2 linked regions of the Homo sapiens genome follow. The protein of the gene in region 1 interacts with the protein of each later gene in a pairwise test. Each region holds a gene or a part of one and is shown in the gene's direction. Other genes may lie near its edges.

Region 1 (3,749 bases):
GGTGCTGCTGGGTGAGGGGAGCCCCTGGTGAGGGTGTTTATGACTCTCCACAATGATCTCATTATTTGAGACTTCCGGCTGCTTTCTGCTGGAGGCTGGTGCAGTCCTGGGTGGGTGTGGAGGAGGAGGTAATTAACCCAGGCCTGCAGCTGCTGGGAGAGGCCACAGCGGATGGCGGAGAGGCCACAGCGGATGGCGGACAGGCTCCGCTAAGGCAAGGTCCTCAGGTGGAGCAAGACCCTGGGGGCACAGGTGCTTGTGAGGCTGGTGGTCCTGGTGCTAAGCTCATCATTGCTGGCTTCTCCATGCACAAGGCCCCTCGCCCGGCCGTGCTGAGTGTCCTCAATAATGAGATGTTTTCATTGCTTTTGTGATTATCCCAAGACCCCTCTTGTCTCCTGTTATAACAGGGAGAGGGCATGCTACGTGGCTTCCTAATTAAGAAGGTCTGTGTCCCTCAGGCTTACAGGAAGTTGTTATATCACCACTGGAAACCCTTTTTACGCCATTCATTAATTACAAAAAGGACAAGCTATTGATTTTACCGAGGGTGGAACTTAGTCACTCGTCCTCCATACCATGTTCCAAATGTGTGTTCTCCAAGCACAGAAAATGCAAAGTGGAAAACATTTGGTTTGCAGCACTTGGCTCTGAAAGCCACAGGCTTCCCCTCCAGTGGAAGAGAGCCCAGAAGACAGCAGTGGCAGGAAGCACTAAGTGGAGGGAGGAAAAAGATGCAGACCCCAGGCCCAGGCAGCCACTAGGCTGCAGGGGAGCCAGGGGCTTGGTGCTGAGTGCCAGGCGGTGCTCCCTGAGCACCAGGGAGGGAGCGTACTGTCAACCTGCTACCTTGGGACCCTCCCCACCCCTGCGTCCCCATGTGTGGGTGTGACATCCTAAAGGGCCCGCTGCGTTAAGGTGACCCCGGGCCATCTGGCCCTCCTTTGGGGCAGCCACACACCAGCAGGACAGTCCTTGGAGCAGTTCCCAGGCTGCACTTGGCCTCAGGTATTTCTGAGGACAGCAGGACCACCACACAGACACACACACATGCACCAGGGACCGCAGACACATGTGCACACACACGTAGGAGCTCACGTGCACCGGCACCATAGGAAGCACTTTGCCATGTCACTTTGTTGAGTTCCTGTTTCCAGGTGAACAAACCTGGCCCTGGGCCACACAGCTGGGCCCGTGGGACTCAGAGTCCTGCTCCTGGCCATGCTGCCCCATCCCTTCCATCAGGCAGGTGCCCGGGATACATGGGGGTCATGTGCCCTGAGCTGCCCTTTGCCACCTCATCCTTTCTCTCTGGCATATTCTTGGGGAGCCCCAGAGGCTCGGAGGAGCCTGCCTGAGGCCACAGGTGGGTGCCCGGCAGCTGGCACCACTGGCCAGTGCCCCAGAGGCTCCAGTCCTTCCCCCACCAGCAGCCTCGGGGACTTGAGAGAGACATCTGTCTTCCCGCAGAGCGTTCTTTCGTCCTCCACCCACCCCCAACCCTCCATTAAAAACAGCAACAGCCAACAGCGTATGCATTTATTTACTTTGCTGGGTGGAGGGAGATGGCTGCGAGGAGGCAGCAGCCGGGCCGTGGGTGGGGCCTTGTGCTGGAGACATCTGTCTTGCTCTGTCAGCTTCTCACCCAGCGGGACAGGGTGGCCCCTTTGTCACTTGGGTAGGAGAACTATTTAGCAAAGCCATGACCTGGGGAGGCTGGCTGCCCACCAGCAGTGAGCCCGTAACCTACCATGGGACAGACACCGCCCCGCGGCCCTTTGTTCCACCTCCCCCTGGGTGGTGAGCCTGGGTCCTCAGGCACCTGGGACATCCCTGCCCTTGACTGCCATCTTCATAAACCTTCACCCTGGAAGGGCGCCCCTGGGCACTCAGGGAGGAAGGCCGCCCGCACCTTGGGAGGGCAGCGCTTATGGGCGGGCACTCCACGCAGTGACGTTGAGGCTCCTGGGCTGGTCTGGACTCTGTCTCAGAGCCTGGAACATCCAGCAGATACTACCATCCCGGGAGACGGGAAGAGCAGTGGGGCCCTCACAGGCTCTCAGGCTCCCACACATCCATCCATCATCAGACAGCATTTGCTTTGTCTGAGGGCAGAGCCTGGCTGATGAGTTTGCTGCAAATATTAAAGAGCAGGGCCACATCAGAGCCGCCTTGGGGCCCGTTGCTGGGCACCAGATTCTCCCTCAGCCTGGAGCCGACCCTGAGAATGACCTGCACCTGGGCTCGTGCCCGCCTCAGGCTGTGTATTAACTGACCTCGAGAGAAGCAGTCACAGCCCTCGGCCTGTGGCATTGGGAATGCTCGATGGCCTGGTGGCCGCTGGGGTGGGAGCAGCTGTAGTGGTTTGGGATAATATGGCTGAGGGCAGGGCAGGGCCCCCGCCTGGGGGAGGCCAAGCTCAGCAAGTGCTCCTAGGCTGTGCCGAGGGCCGGGGTGAGGTGAGGGGAGGCAGGGAAGCCCCTGACCCTGGTTCATCGTGGACACGCTGCAGGTCCATCGCCTTCCTCACTTCCCATGGACGAGTCCCACCCCTAAAAGTCCCTCGGCATAGGACGACCTGGAGGGCAGCCCCCATGCCCAGGTTTAAATGGAGGCTCTCCCCTTACCCGCTGTGTCACTTTGGGCAAGTTACTCAGCCTGTCTGTGCTTCACTTCCTCATTGGTAAAAGTGGACAATCATTTCTGTGCTGCTTGGTGGGGTTGTTGGGAAGACCCTGATGTGCACAGCCTGCCGCGCCCTAAGCATGGGTTGCGCAGGGAATATCCCCTTATCGCTGTAGTCCCTGCCCCACGTGCACAGCCCATGTGGGGGCAAAGGGGTGGGAGGGCTCTCGTCTGCAGTGCCTTCTGCAGACCCAGAGTTGGGTGGTCCTCCCACGCCCTCGGCGGCTGGAGGGCTGTGGTCACATCTCTGGTAAAGATGCCGAGAGCTGTAGGAAGTTACTCCTATTCCACTCCCAGGTGGTCATGGAGGCCAGATCGTTAGGGGACTCGAGGGCTCCGCTCCACTGCTGCGTGTGGCTGGCAGAGGTGAGGACCGGGCTGTATGAAGCCCTGGAGGTTTTCTCGCTCTTGGGCGGAGATCTCCCTGCCGTTCGGGCCGTGCCGCGTGCGTGGGGCCTGGGGCCCATCACACACCTATGAACTGGACCAGAAGGAGCATGGTCCTGAGTTAGCTCTTAGCGCCTCTTGGCGGGGAGTGGGGAAAATCGCGCCTGTGCACAGCCCAGACGGCTCCCTCAGCTCTGCCCGCAGCCCACCGCTTGTAAAGCCAAGTCCCCGTCTCTTTGGGGCCTGGAGATCATTGGTGCCTAGGGAAGAAAGGAGGGGCTGGTTTTCCTAGATCTAGGTCTAGTTAGTTTTTTGCTTTTCTAGCTTTTTAATTATAGAAAAGGTCAAATATACGCAAAAGTAAAGAGAAGAAAGAATTCCTGTGTAGTTATTAGCTCAGGGCCAGTCTTATGCGTTGACAGCCCTGACTACTCCCCCACCACAGAGAGCTCTCAACTGTGGAGGTTTTCTCTTTTAACAGCTTTACTGAGATGTAATTACATGCCGTTCTGTTCACCCACTTCCAGGATACGATTCAGCAGGTTTTCTTCTATTCACAGAGGTGGACATCCCCCGCCACAGTCTATTTCAAAACCTTTTATCTCACCAAAAAGAAGCACCACCCCTTAGCCACCACTGGTCCCCCAGCCCCAGGCAACCGCCAATCCACTTTCTGC
Region 2 (3,749 bases), on another chromosome or scaffold:
ACAATTACTTCTTGGTTAGTTTTGGTTAGTTGTAGCTCTTGCTGCAGTTCATCCAGGCAACACAACAAAAATGTGCACTCTAGGGAAAGGTAAATTTATTCCTTCATTTATTGCTGTCAAATATCTGTGGAATGTTTATTGTACAGGTTGAGCATGCCAAATCCAAAAATCAAAATCTGAAACTTTTTTTTTTTTCTGAGATGGGGTCTTGCTCTGTTGCCCAGACTGGAGTACAGTGGTGCAAACACAGCTCACTGCAGCCTTGACCTCCTGGGCTCAAGCAGTCCTCCCACCTCAGCCTCCCAAGTAGCTAGGACTACAGGTGCACGCCACCATACCTGGCTAAGTTTTTTTATTTTCAGTAGAGATGAGCTGTCACTATGTTGCCTAAGCTGTTCTTGAACTCTTGAGCTCAAACGATCTCCCCCACTTGGCCTCCCAAAGTGCTGGGATTACAGGCATGAACTACTGCACCTGGCCCAAAATCTGAAACCTTTTGCACACCAGCATGACACTTGAAGGAAATGCTCATGGAGCACTCTGGATTTCAAATGTTTGGATTTGGGATGCTCACCTGGTAAGTATAATGCAAACATTTTAAAATCTGAAATCTGAAACAATTCTGCTCCTAAGCATTTTGGATAAGAGATATTTAACCCATAGAGGAAAGGTACATGGAAGCCCCAGACCACCCAAAAGAAAAGGCCTGGGGAGAAGATGGGCAGTTATGGCTAGACACCAGATTTCAGGTTTTACAGATGGATCTGGCATCTGAGAATCTATGAACAGATGGATTCTTAAGGTCAGTGACTGGCCGGGCGCGGTGGCTCATGCCTGTAATCCCAGCACTTTTGGAGGCCGAGGCAGGTGGATCACCTGAGGTCAGGAGTTCCAGACCAGCCTGGCCAACATAGCGAAACCCTGTTTCTACTAAAAATACAAGAATTAGCTGGGCATGGTGACGGGTGCCTGTAATCCCAGCTACTCGGGAGGCTGAGGCAGGAGAATCATCGCTTGAAACTGGTAGGCAGAGGTTGCAGTGAGCCGAGATCACGTCATTGCACTCCAGCCTGGACAACAAGAGCAAAACTCCATCTAAAAAAAAAAGAAAAAGAAAAAAAAGGGCAGTGACTATGGGAGAAAAATCAAAGACCAATATTTTACCTTGGGAAGTGCCCACAAAGGCAGGAAAAATAAAAGGACCTACAGAAAAGTAAAGCAGAAAGAGAACACAAGTGTATGGTGGTCCTGAGAGGTTTTAGAATAGAGAGGAGTCCAAAGAGAGCAGGTGAATCAAAAGGTTCCAGGCCAGAAGAGACCTTGGGTTTTCATGATGACGAGACCCTCCTGTGGCCTGTGGAGCTGGCTCTCATCAGGTCATCAGAGCCAACTGTGCGCATTGCTTCCCAAGTACACGTCATGTTGGGAGTGGGAGATTGGCTGTGTGAAAAAATGTCTACACCACGGAAATTGGCAGATATATGGTGACCCAGCAAACACAGTTGACACCTGAAACATAATTTTTAGGAATAGTATTTAACCTTGTATGCGGGATCCATTCTGACCTCTATCCTTCCCTTCTTACCTATTTCATTAAAACAGAAGAAAAAGCTGGTGTAACTCATTGAACTGATTTCATGACCTGCAGTTTGAAAAACATTATTTTAGAGAAAACTGGGGATTATGTATGCCTTACAAAGTCAGAAGACAATTATTTTAAAAATAAATTATAGTAACAATTGTAGATAGGATGATTTCATCTTGAAAGGAGGAAAAAAAGAATCCTAAAAGGCTGACAAGATGACCTCTCTAGACTAAGGACTAAGTATGCATGCTTACAGGAGAAGAAAAACGAGCAGAGAGAAGCGGGAGCCCTCAGAGATGGAGGGAGGAAGGGGCTGGGAGCACGGCCTTGTGTTTGCCTGGGGAGAGGAGGCCGTGTTTTGATAGTGAAAGCTTGTTTTAGAGAAAGTCACCTGTTCTGGAGGATTGAGGAATGAAACTGGAAACCTTAGGAAAAAAGCAAAGACATCGGATGTACTTGGTATTTTTTAAATTGCTTTTATTTAGTTAGCTGGAAATGCACTTTCTCAGATCCACTGTCACTCCTGCAAATTACAAGAGCGCTCAGCCACCCTGTCGAAGGTCATCCGGCTTCCAAGCAGCAAATTGGACCTTGAGCCCTCGTGCTGCCCTTGTTGCAAAGCTCTTTGTCCACACTCGCTGGCAGAGGTGGAGAGTACAGAGGGGAGGATGCTTGGCCTGTGGTGGTCTGGCCAGCCAGGGCAGGCATGAGCTCGTCACAGGCCAGGCAGTCATCGAGTGCTCTTTGTGGCCTGAAGTGGATTTGGCAGGTGCCTGTTATTTGATCAGTGTCGATGGCCAGTCGACACAAGTAAATGAATCCCCAAACTTTACTCTGACCCACCTGCTTTAAACAAATTGGAGGAAGTCATCAAGTTAGTTTCCCTAGTTTCCTCTCTGAGGACAGTCTGGGGGCTGAGGCCTGGCTGAGTCCTGTCTCCTCAGGACAGGCCCAAAAGGAGGTACAGGGCGGCCTGGGGGACAGCAAGGTTCAGAGTTTCAGGGCTATGGAGATCCTGGAGCTGATAGACGAGTGTCAGCCACAAAGGTGAAGCTGGATTTCAGGACCACAACAGGCGGCAGCTGGGAGTTACGAAGGGGGCAGGGCTGGGTTGCGGCCTCAGGTGCTCCTCTGGGTTGGGGCTTCTCTCCTCAGCCCCGCAGGTGCGGGTCGGGCAAGCCTGTGATCATAAGACAGGGCTGAGGGGGTCTGGGGAAGGGTACGGGAACCAGCAAGAGAGACCAGGGTGGGGCTGATCTTACACCCTCCACCGAACACTTGAGTTTCCTGCTTGTCAGTGTCCACTTTTGCGTATGTGGGATTTTGGATTGTTCCTTTTAGAGTCTCATGTGTACCCGACACACTACTGTTCATATTGCCCAGTAGCTTTATATATATGTAAATATATATATATATATATGGGTGCTAAATATTTATCAAATGAATAAAGGAGGAAATGCAGATTCCAGTTATTCATGGTGATGTTGGGAAGTACTGAAAGTCCTCTTAAATTCAAATATCAGAAATATGCTCTCCCATCTAATAAATACTTTTTGATGGTGCTGGTATTAATATTCAGATATGATATATATTTAATATTTATTTTTAATATTAATATTCATATATATATATTTTTTAACAAGAAGCTTTACATTCTTCATCTTGTGATTTTTTGGTTAAAAGAAAGGAAGTCTGTTTATAATGCTGTGCATTATTTCTATAAATCGCCCTCTGTACACAGGGATGTCAGATGCTGCCCAAGAGAATCTGTTTCATATGGTAATTTTCACTAATGAATCCAGACCTATACTGTTAAATTTTGCCCCAAACTGCCTGGGATGAAGTAGAGGAAGCTCATGGCAGTGAGCGTGACAGTTCTTAGAGGACGCTATCATAGTGTTTCATAACAGATGCAGAGGCTCTGCAGTTCTGAATATTAATACCAGCACCATCCAAAAGTATTTATTAGATGGGAGAGCATATTTCTGATATTTGAATTTAAGAGGACTTCCAGTACTTCCGAACGTCACCATCAATAATTGGAATCTGCATTTCCTCCTTTATTCATTCGATAAATATTTAACACCCATTATGTTCATGGCATCACATTAGACTCTGGGGGAGTTACAAAGAACCTAGGCTGGGCTCTGCCCTCAAGGGGGAA

Evidence for each region. The genes of interacting proteins can lie anywhere in the genome.
Region 2: the proteins of ACOT7 (region 1) and DCTD interact in binary tests that used the Homo sapiens proteins (3 or more experiments, as listed by UniProt).

Annotation. Positions count from the first base shown.
Region 1 is NC_000001.11:6,268,055-6,271,803, reverse strand, and holds part of ACOT7 (cytosolic acyl coenzyme A thioester hydrolase), read left to right. Parts: intron 1-3,749. UniProt on the Homo sapiens protein: Catalyzes the hydrolysis of acyl-CoAs into free fatty acids and coenzyme A (CoASH), regulating their respective intracellular levels.
Region 2 is NC_000004.12:182,896,764-182,900,512, reverse strand, and holds part of DCTD (deoxycytidylate deaminase), read left to right. Parts: intron 1-3,749. UniProt on the Homo sapiens protein: Catalyzes the deamination of dCMP to dUMP, providing the nucleoside monophosphate substrate for the thymidylate synthase/TYMS.